2 separate regions of the Homo sapiens genome follow, and region 1 is linked to region 2. Evidence: fine-mapped expression QTL. A gene starts in region 2. The other region holds a variant in brackets. All regions are shown on one strand. Distances are from middle to middle. Region 1 overlaps ARHGAP39 (Rho GTPase activating protein 39). Region 2 holds the start of KIFC2 (kinesin family member C2).

Region 1 (5,357 bases), 210 kb after region 2:
TAAAGCTGGAGTTAGAAAGAAGCTATTGCCAACCCTTTCACTCTTCCTAACTGCATGCTGACTCGGAAGGTGGGGCTCAAGCTGAGAAGTGCTCCCCTTCAGGAGACAGTGTCACTCTACACGCTGCAAACACCACCCTCCCACCTGCTCCCTGACCCCCAGATGCCTGCTCACCTGGGCTCTCGCCAACACTCCAGTCACAGAGCTGCCGGCTCCGGCCACACATCCCTCCCGCCTGAGGCTCTTTCTGTGCCTGGTGAATAGCCCAAGGCTCAGCTGCTGATACTCCTCCTTTCCAGACAAGACACCCCTTCTCCAGAAAGCCTACCTGAACTCCACGCCCCTCCCGGCCAGCCACCCTAGGGTTCTCCCTACGACCCCAGGCACACGGCCACCTCTGCTGTCCACAGGATGTTAGCACAACTCACTCCCGTGTCCCCCACCAGAGGCCTGGTCTGTCTCCTCCCTGTCGGGGGTATCTGACTGGCAAGTGGCTGGCACATACAGGCAACAGTAAAGACAGGGGCGAGATGAGTGTGGGTGGGCCTGGCAAACACAAGACCAGGTGTGAGAGCCCTGCCAGAGCAATGGAGACAGGCTCCGCCCAAGTGAGGCTCATCCTGGGCCCCAGTGGCCTTGGGCAGAAAGCCCCACACTGTTCCTGGACGCCGTCTGTGATTCCGGCACATGCTGTAAACGAGGGTCTCAGGGACGTCACAGCACTACCCCCTCCCACATGTGGGAATTTCCACAGCACGCCTGAATTCTGAATAGAAAATAAAAGGTCAACACAGCCGCAATTAAATAGAAACAGCACCTAGAGTTTCAGAAGCTGCTCCCCTTTATCAGCCACACATGCAGCAGGCAGTCAGATTCCGGGGAAACTTACACTGCAGAGGCTTCAGCACAGCTCTGAGTGGCAGGAGGAACATGCTGGCCACCTCTGTGATCCCAGGGAATGCTTGAAGGGACCGTAACAGAAAACCACTAGGAGTATCTCAAGGCTAACAGTAAACTCAACCCATGAAGGAAGCATCAGCCACTCTGTCAGGATAGTGTTGGGGCCTCTAGTAGTTTAAAGTAATAATCAAGAGAAAAGGCAGGAAAGATGAAAGGAGCATGGCAAGAAAGGAAAATAGACTCAAACACTGTTGGCCAGACAAGGGGTTCTGGACCCTGTGTCCAGCACCCTGGCTGCCAGGAGCTGGGGAGACAGCAGTGCTCCCACGCCTCACATCTGTCTACACCACCATCAACTGTGCTCTGTGTGCGCCTAGACCAGCCTGCAAGAGGCTGGTTCATCAGCCTCTTAGTGTTGATATTAATTTTTAAAACTCCTATTATACACAAATAACAGTAATTTACAGAACCCACTGAGACTCAGCCATTCTTCAGCTTCACAACAACCTTGAACAAATAAGCAGGACAAGCATCTTATCTGCAGATAAGAGCTCGAGTGCTTAACTGACTTATCTGTGCTCAATCACACAGGCAGCGATTAAGTCAATGTTTAACTCAAGTCTTCTGCACGGAGACCAGTGTAGCATCGCTACCACCTGAAATTTGACGCTGATCAGGGGCCAGGCACAGTGGTTCATGCCTGTAATCCCAGCACTTTGGGAGGCAGAAGCGGGAGGATCACTTGAGCCCAAGAGTTCAAAACCAGTCTGGGTAACAGGGTGAAATCCTGCCTCTACAAAAATTACAAAAATTAGCTGGGCATGGTGACATGCACCTATTGTTCCAGCTACTTGGGAGGCTGAGGCAGGAGGATCGCTTGAGCCCAGGAGGTCAAAGATACAGTGAGCAGATATCATGCCACTGCCCCCTAGCCTGGGTGATAGATTGAGAACCTGTCTCAAAAAAAAAAAGAGGAAGAAAGAAAAGAAACTGATCAGGGACTCATCGCCTTGCCACAGCCCCCAAGAACACACCCGCACCAAGGCCCTCTGCGGGCATGCAGCCTTCTGACTCTCACCTTGGAATGTTCTCTTCTGAAAAATCCTAGTCACTCCTGTTTTTAACAGCTTCATTGAGATAGAATTCACATTACATACAATTCACCCAATTAAAGTATATGATTTTAGGTTATTTTTAGTATATTCACAGATATGTGCAACCTTCACCACAGTCAATTTTAGAATATTTTCATTATGCTAAAAGAAATTCCATACCTCTTGGCTGTCATCCCCTAGCCCTTGGCAACCACTAATCTACTTTCTATCTCTACAGATTCACTTCTTCTGGACACTTCACATAAACGGAATTGTCATGAGATCCTTGGGGTGTCGCTTCACCAGCCAGAAACCGCTGTGGCCAGTGGTGCCTTCTGCCTGAGTATTGCTCATGCCCACTGGGATTGTTCCGCCCACTCAGGCCGGCAGACTGCTCTCAGCTCACACTACCGGCCCAGATCCCACACCTGCCAAGTGCAAGCCAGGTGCAAAGTGGCAAGGGGTGTGTGGGCAAGCAAGCGCAGGGTCAGGCCACCGTGCATAGCCAGGCATGCCAGCTGCAGCGGGGCAGGCTGCTCCAGGTGCCAGCTCTGTGCGAGGCTGCGGCTTGACCAGATGTACTGCATGTGGCTTCCACTGTGGGCACCTGCATCTGGATGAGGGGAATGCAGTGGCATCCAGAAGCTTGGAGATGCCAGGAACCACAGAACCCCAAAGAGGGTGTCACAGCCCTGGCTCGAGGAGACCCTAGGTCTGGGCTCCCCAAAGTGCTGCAGCTCTTCTCTCCTTTTCATTACCTGCAACGTGGTGAGTGGTGGGGGGC[G/A]GTGGTCGGGGGGAGTGTGTGTTTCAGCCCTGTTTGTGTTGCAGCTCATTTAGTCCCGCCATTCAGCAGGTCCCAAGTTCCTGTCACATGTCCAGGTAGAATGAGGTACGTGAACAACTGGAGAGTGAGCGAGGTGGAGAGGAGCTTCACTGTGCGACAGAACAGCTCTTGGGAGACCCACAGTGGGTAGCTCCTTTCCGCATACGGGTTGTCTTGACGACTGTTCAGGTCTCAGCAGAGAGGAGACTCGGACTGGTTAGCTCCTATCCTATCTGCAGGCAGGCTGTCCTGTTGTTTGCCTGAGTCTGGCTGAGTCCAGGGTTTTTATGGGCTTCAGAGGGGAGAAAGTATGTGCTGAATGGTTCACGGGTGGCCATGGGCAGGCCCAGAAAAAGCACCATAAACTCTTACTCTGGTCCATGGAACTGGCAGCCCAGCCCCCAGGCTTCAGGCTGTCCCTGACTTGAACATGGGGCTTCATCAGGGACCTGCCCCTTTTCACCCAGGAGCCTGTCTGCCTCCTGCTACCATCAACCTGCCGTCCATGGTGCCCAGGCTATTTGTGCTGAGGGGCTCCTGCAGGCCTGCACCAAGCTGCCCTCAGCCCCTCCTCGGGCTCCCTCCTGTGCTCGCTCGTCGGCACCCAAAGTCCGAAGGCGGCCGAGAAGGCAGGGGGCTGGCATGTCAGTTTTGCCCCAAGTGCATGTACACCTGGCCAGGTTGCAACAGTGCCTGGGCTCAGCCTCAACTTTGTTCCAAAATTGACGTGGGGACCAGGAGCAGGGAGAGGCCAGGTAGCGGGAGGAGGCTGGCCTGCTTCTGAGTCTGCAGGGGAAGGGGGGCTTCCTGAGTCCCCGAGAGAGCAGGGATGTCTGGGTCCATAGCCACAGCTAGGCAGCTGCAGCTGTGCCCAGGAGGGCCAGGCTCCCACCCCTCCAACTTGGAAGGGGGTGCAGCTCCTGCCTGTTCCCAGTTCCCACCAGCTCCATGGACCATGCAGCCCCAAGCCTCCCCAGCTGCAACCAGCGTCATGGCAGCAGCCACTCCAGACAAGCCACCAATGCCATTAGAATCATACAGTATGTCTCCAGCTTCTTTCACTTAGCATTTTTTTTTTGAGACAGAGTCTTACTCTGTCACCAGGCTACAGAGCAGTGGCATGATCTCGGCTAACTGCAACCTCTGCCTCCCGGTACGCCACTGTGTCCAGAATTGGTGGGTTCTTGGTCTTGCTGACTTCAAGAACGAAGCCGCGGACCCTCGCGGTGAGTGTTACAGCTCTTAAAGATGGTGTGTCCGGAGTTTGTTCCTTCTGGTGGGCTCGTGGTCTTGCTGACTTCAGGAGTGAAACTGCAGACCTTCGTGGTTAGTGTTACAGCTCTTAAAGATGGTGCGTCTGGAGTTGTTCATTCCTTCCGGTGGGTTTGTGGTCTCGCTGGCCTCAGGAGTGAAGCTGCAGACCTTTGTGGTTAGTGTTACAGCTCTTAAAGGCAGTGCATCTGGAGTTGTTCGTTCCTGCCGGTGGGTTCGTGGTCTTCCTGGCTTCAGGAGTGAAACTGCAGACCTTCGTGGTTAGTGTTACAGCTCTTAAAGACGGTGCGTCTGGAGTTGTTCATTCCTTCCGGTGGGTTCGTGGTCTCGCTGGCCTCAGGAGTGAAGCTGCAGACCTTCGTGGTTAGTATTACAGTTCTTAAAGGCAGTGCATCTGGAGTTGTTCGTTCCCTCCGGTGGGTTCGTGGTCTTCCTGGCTTCAGGAGTGAAGCTGCAGACCTTCGCGGTGAGTGTTACGGTTCATGAAGATAGCATGTCCAGAGTTGTTCCTTCCTCCCGTCAGGAGTTGTTCTTCCCTCCCAGTGGGTTCATGGTCTCGCTGGCTTCAGGAGTGAAGCTGCAGACCTTCTCGGTGAGTGTCACAGCTCATAAAGGCGGCGCGGACCCAAAGAGTGAGCACCAGCAAGATTTAGTGCGAAGAGCAAAAGAACAAAGCTTCCACAGCATGGAAGGGGACCCCAGCGTGTTGCCGCTGCTGGCTTGGGTGGCCTGCTTTTATTCCCTTATCTGGCTCCACCCACCTCCCACCGATTGGTCCATTTTACACAGAGCTGATTGGTCCGTTTTGACAGGGTGCTGATTAGTATGTTTACAAACCTTCAGCTAAACACAGAGTGCTGATTGGTGCATTTACAATACTTTAGCTAGACACAAAAGTTCTCCAAGTCCCCACTAGATTAGCTAGACACAGAGCACTGATTGGTGCGTTTACAAACCTTGAGCTAGACACGGGTGCTGCTGACTGGTGCGTTTACAAACCTTGAGCTAGACACACGTGCTGCTGACTGGTGCGTTTACAAACCTTGAGCTAGACACACAGTGCTGATTGGTGCGTTTACAAACCTTTAGCTAGACACAGACTGCTGATTGGTGTGTTTACAAACCTTTAGCTAGACAGAAAAGTTCTCCAAGTCCCCACCCGACCCAGAAGCCCAGCCGGCTTCACCTCTCAATGGTGGGACTTCACGGCACCTAGCCCGGGCACTCCGGCAGCCCAGAGGAAGCTCGTCCCAGATCAAGCCCAGCAG
Region 2 (5,357 bases):
GCCCAGGGGTCTTCCTGACAATAGTCAAAAGGAGGCCGGGCTGCATGAGACCCCATCCTAGTTCCAGCACATACCCTGTCAGGGTAACTGACTACTGTCCTGAGGGGCCTTAGGAAGCTCACTGAAAGATCCCTCAATCCCTCTCAAAAATGGGCAGTTTTCATATTCCTGCAAAATTCCTAAGATTTATTGGAGACTAGGCCTCTTCTCTGGATCCACAACCGTGTCCAGCCCAGAATCAGGACCCCCAAACGTGTCTGGGACCCTGTCCCTTTCATTCTGGTCTAGACAAGTCCCCACACGTGGCCAAAGGACAGCACCCAGACTCTGCCCCTGACCAGTCAATGTGCAGCAAACCCACTTCAGTAGGCAGAAGAGTCTACCCCTAGGGAGAAGGCGCCAGGAGCAGGCAGGTGGGAGGGAAAGTGTTCGGCAGGGCAGAAACCCTGCCTGGCTGTATCCAACTGTCACTCCCACTGGAGGCGCTGTGTATGCAGGGCCCGGCAGTAAGCCCAGCTGCCTACAGCCAAGGCCCAGCGACAGACATCCTCCTTCGGTAGCAGCAGCAGCCTGTCCTCCTCCAGCCGGCTCAGGAGGCCTGCCACACCCAGCATCGCCCCCCCCCACATCCCATAAGTGTTGGCCGTGAAGACAGCTACAATGAGGATGGTCACTGCGACCACCAACAGCATTGCCTGACCAGCCACAGAGCGGCCCTCAGGGCCGAGGTGGCCGCCAGCCACTGCCAGCACCATGCCTCCTCCCAGGAGCAGGTTGGCAGAGGAGCGGTCCCCATTCACCCAGTGGAAATCGAAGGCCAGAAGGGGAAGGCCGATGACGGTGGCCACCCAGGCTCCAGCAAGGCAGTCTTCGTGTGTGCTCAGCCCTGGGGCCAGCGTGGTGGTGGCAGCCAAGACCTGGAGCAGGAAGCCAGCAGCAGCCCCTCGACTTGCCTGTCAACACAGGGAAGGGAGAACACGTGGGAAAAAGAGGCCGGGGTCACCCTTTTAAACAGGAAAGGGTTTGGGGCTTCCATGGAGACCTGGTCTTAGACGCACTTCCCACCAACCTCTCTCTAATTCAGGAAACTAGGTCCTTGGGGTTTGGGAGGTATGGGGATGCGCCCCTGCTCAGCCCCAGTGTACTCACCTCGGCTGTGCTCACGGCTGCGTGCAGAGACACCACTCCCAGCACCAGATGGGACAGGGCTGTGCTCCACTCGGCCCCCGGCTTGGGGGCCATGGCACCTCAGGCGGCAGTATGTACGAGGACACAGATAGGAGATACTCAACTTTGGAGAGGAAGGAAGCGCAGAAGCCAGCGACCTGGAGCCCTACGCGCGGCACTCTAGTAAGCCCAGGTTCCAGGTCCCCATTACTGGATGTTAGGAGAAGTTCAGTCCTAGACTTTCCGGATCCCTGAGGCCACTGCACACACCTGTGGAGAAGAAGAACCTAATTCAGCCGGGAAACGGGGGAAAACGACTCAGGGTCTAAGCTGGGGGGAACGTCAGCCCTGGGGCCCTGGAGCCCAAGTGGGAGTGCGGGCCTGGGGAAGAGAGAGCGGCGAGGCGCTGCAGGCCCACGCGGCGGCCTCGGCCTGCTCCCTGCGTTCCGGGAGGCGTTGTCCTGGGAACCCGGGTCCAGGAGGAGCGACGGCGCAGGACTCCGGGAGGCCAGCCGTGCGCAGTTACCGGGCTGCGCGGTCCCAACGCAGCGGCGAGCGGGAGGCCCGAGCCTGCGCAACGCACCGCCCACCGCCGTCGGCCCTGCCTCCTCTGCCGTGCCCCCAGTTGCGGGAGCGAGCGCGGTCGGGAACCTCCACCAGCGAGAGGAGCGGAGGCTAGAGCGGCCGGGCGGGGCTAGAGCGGCTGGGGGGGGAGGGTCGAGGCCTGGGGGAGAGGGTCGAGACCTGGGGGGGGCCGGTTGGAGGCCGTAGGAGCGGGTGGGGTCGGGAGGAGCTCGGGGACCAGAAAACGCTCTGTTTGGGTGGGTGCGTGCGTGGGCATAGTGGTTTGGAAGGAGCGTGATGAGGGGAGAAGGGCCGGGGCGGGGCTGCGAGGGGCGGGGTCTGGGCGGGGCTGCGAGGGGCGGGGGGTCTGGGCGGGGCTGAGGGAGATAAGGTTTAGGCGGGGCTGAGAGCGGCGGGTCTGAGAGGGAGGGGGCCTGGGTGGGGCGGGGCCTGGGCGAGGATGCGATGGGGGGGTCTGGGCGTGGCTGCGAGGGGCGGGGCCTGGGCGGGGCTGCGAGGAGAGGGGTCTGGGCGAGACTGAGAGGGACCGAGAGGGGAGGAGCCTGGGCGAGGCTGCAAGGAACGGGGTTTGGGCGGGGCTGCGAGGAGGGGGGGTCTGGGCGGGGCTGAGATGGGCGGGGCTGAGATGGGCGGGGCTGTAGGGAGAGGAAGGAGAACCCCGGCGTGTTGAAGGCTCCGCGAAACCGGAGCGGTGGGGGACTACGCGGAGGGTGGGAGGGATTCCGAGAGGAGGGTCGCGGGAGCCGTGGGCGCTCTCAGCCCGGTGTCCGCGGTGTAGGGGTTGGGGCGCGCCGGGCGGCGCCGTGAGAAACGGCGGGTCTCCAGGTGCGGCCGCGGGCACCTGTTTCTAGTACCCCCGTCCCCGCGCTCGCCTTCCAGCCGTGGGAGCCGGGCCGTGGGGGCGGCCGTCGCGAGCATGCGCACCGGCACTGCGGCGGGCGGGCGCCGAGTCTGGGCGCGGGGACGCGGGGCGGCGCGAAGCGGGGCCCTCTGCCGCCCCGCGCTCCCATGTACGCCTTTTACTCGTTGCTCATCTACATCTTCTACAGCCTCTTCCGCAGGGATGGTGGCGCCGCGGCGGCCGCGGAGCCCGGGGACCCCGCCCAGGTGAGCGGGGCTGGCCGTGCAGCCCGTCGTCTCCCGCCGCCTGCCCCACCCCCACGCCGAGGTTCCCGGGGCGGGGGCGGGCACGGGGCGCGGGGCGACGGGGCCGTGCCGAGGACCCTCGGCTCGGCCCCGATGCTGGAAGCGTAGACTTCGGCCCCAATCCTCCGGCCCGGTTCGCGGAGGGAAGGGGCCAGCAGGCTGCCTGCCCCCCTCCTCAGGGGCGCCCCTGCCCCCTCCCTAGAGAGCCCGCAAGCCCCGGGGTCGCCGGCGCCCAGACCTGCCCGCGCCAGAGCTGTGGACCGAGCTGACCGGCCTGGCCGGTAGGTGCGGGCTGGGAGTCCCGCGGTGCGAGGGCGGTGCCGGGACCTCCCAGGGAGGGGCGGAGGCCTGGCTCAAGCACGTGACCCGAAATGTCTCCCGCCCTCCTCCCTGACCGGCAGCCAGCTCCGAGCCTGAGGATGGGTCGGAAGGCGCAGCCGAGGGCCGCGCGGCCGCGGTGTCCCTGGAAGAGGCCCTACTGCGCCTCGCCGAGTTCCTCTCCGTCCAGCTGGGGGCGGAAGAGAGCTGCGGGGGCCCGGCGGACCTGGGCCAGGTGAGCGCGGCGGAGGGGGCTGCTGGCAGGTACCACCTGCCCCGGCCTTCCTGGCTTTCACAGCCCTGCTCGGATTCTTGTCTCCTTCGCAGTCTGGCGAGGTCCCCTCACTGTTGACAGTGACCAGTCAGCTCTTGGCCCTTCTGGCATGGCTTCGAAGCCCCAGGGGGAGGCAGGCCCTGCTCCAGGGGACTCAGCCAGCCCCTCGGGTCCGGCCCCCCTCTCCAGATGGTGAGTAAAGGACAGTAAGTTGAAGAAGAACTCTGGAGGGAGCAAATCCCGGTAGAACCTGGGCGGCCTGGAGTTCGGGGTCATGTTCCGGAAGATTTGGACTAGAGACCTCTTCAGTGCTAACTGGGCCCACCCTACTCCAGGATCCACATCCCAAGAAGAAAGCCCTTCCCACTTCACCGCAGTCCCAGGCGAGCCACTGGGGGATGAGACCCAGGGACAGCAGCCCCTCCAGTTGGAGGAGGATCAGAGGGCGTGGCAGCGGCTGGAGCAGCTCATCCTGGGACAGGTGAGGTCCCTGGAGCCAGAAGGGATTGCCGGCTGGGACGCCAGAAAAAGGAGGTCCACCCTGTCTCTCTTACTTCTCCCCAGCTGGAGGAGCTGAAGCAGCAGCTGGAACAGCAGGAGGAGGAGTTGGGTCGACTGCGCCTGGGCGTGGTGAGGCTGCAGGGAGACCTGGCAGGGCCGGGCATGGAGGGGGTGCTTCAGGTGAGTGCCGAGGTTTCCTCTCCACCAGGGGGCGACGGACTCAGAGAAAAGGGTTCAGCATCTGACTCTGGAGAACGAGGCCCTGAAGCAGAGCCTGAGTCTCATGCGGGACCTCCTGCTGCACTGGGGCCCCGGGCCCCCCATCAGGGCTCCGCAGGTACTCTGCTCCCGAGCTGCAGCCGTTCCTGCAGCCTGGGGCTCTTGCACACCTGGCATGCAGCCACAGGGCCCGAGCCTCCTCAGGACCTCCCGGGATGGTCTGTGTAGGGCAGCCCCATCAGGGAGGCTGATGCCAATGGGAAGACCCCCCTCTCCGTGGCCCCTCTGAGTGGCTGACCCCAGGAGAGCAGAGGGACTGTGGGAAGGAGGTCTGCGTGGAGCTGGGAGGCATGGGTTCACAGCCAGCTCTGCCCACCTCTTGACTTGACTTTCCCATCTGTGAAATGGTACCACAGACCGTCCCTCTCTGAGTCCCTCCTGGCCCCCACCCTCCCGCAGGAGGAGGCAGAGGCATTGCTAGAGCTCCAGGGCCGGCTTCAGGAGGCCCAAGACACCACAGAAGCCCTCCGAGCCCAGGTGGGCATGGGGCCCAGGGATCCATGGCTCAGGGGTGAGGCGGGCTGGGGTTTTGGGAGGGGCTTATCTGAGGCAGGGCCTGGTAAGTGCCTGTTTCCTCAGTGACAGGGGTGGGGTTGGGCGGGGCAGCTGGGGGTGCAGGAGGTGCAGCTGCAGGGCCTTCAAGGGGCCCTCCAGCAGCTCCAGCAGGAGACGGAGCAGAACTGCAGGCGTGAGCTACAGCAGATGCATGGGCAGCTGGCAGGTAAGGGTTGGGGTTGGGGCTCATGGGAGGCCCTGGAGGCTGGGCCTTCCCTTCCAACAGACTTCCCTCTCCAGGACTTCGGGCACGGATGGCCAGCCTGCGTCAGGGCTGCGGGGACCTCCGAGGTTTGGTCAGCACCTTTACCCAGAGCTGTCAGGGTTCGCTGAGTGAGGCCCGGGGCCAGGTCAGGACCCCTCCCCGCCTAGCCCCTCCTCTCTGGGCAGCCTATTCACTGTTCTTTTGACGGGGGCGTTCCTGGGGAGTTGGCTGTACTAATAAGTGGGGCTCTGGAACCCAAACAGCTTCTGTGTGACCCAGGGTGGGATTCCACTTCTGGGCCTTATTTTAATTCTATGCATACTTGGT

What was found. PIP is the estimated chance that this variant, and not a neighbour inherited with it, causes the effect. A credible set is the group of variants that fine-mapping cannot tell apart.
Region 1: its variant is the best candidate, but not a certain one, in a credible set for the expression of KIFC2 in whole blood (TOPMed, PIP 0.51).

What each region holds. Positions count from the first base shown.
Region 1 is chr8:144,671,357-144,676,713 of GRCh38, forward strand. All of the region lies in intron 1 of ARHGAP39 (Rho GTPase activating protein 39), which reads right to left. Among named protein-coding and RNA genes, the nearest start is that of ARHGAP39, 12 kb to the right of the region's middle. RefSeq lists an enhancer at 2,510-3,009. The variant G/A (reference allele first, on the strand shown) is at 2,779.
Region 2 is chr8:144,463,660-144,469,016 of GRCh38, forward strand. It overlaps KIFC2 (kinesin family member C2), which reads left to right and starts at 2,678. Exons shown (of 18, transcript NM_001369769.2): 1 at 2,678-2,859; 2 at 3,101-3,179; 3 at 3,300-3,451; 4 at 3,544-3,682; 5 at 3,826-3,971; 6 at 4,055-4,120; 7 at 4,200-4,328; 8 at 4,670-4,747; 9 at 4,877-4,991; 10 at 5,066-5,175. The coding sequence starts at 2,761. TMEM276-ZFTRAF1 (TMEM276-ZFTRAF1 readthrough) reads right to left here and starts at 2,042. Exons shown (of 5, transcript NM_001408018.1): 1 at 1,912-2,042; 2 at 1,150-1,437. The coding sequence starts at 1,242. It overlaps TMEM276 (transmembrane protein 276), which reads right to left and starts at 1,833. Exons shown (of 3, transcript NM_032687.4): 1 at 1,694-1,833; 2 at 1,150-1,437; 3 at 166-953. The coding sequence starts at 1,242. The coding sequence ends at 468. RefSeq lists enhancers at 1-138, 233-846, 3,045-3,881, 3,572-3,671 and silencers at 1,552-1,781, 1,832-2,091, 2,162-2,291, 2,352-2,911, 2,962-3,271 and 1 more.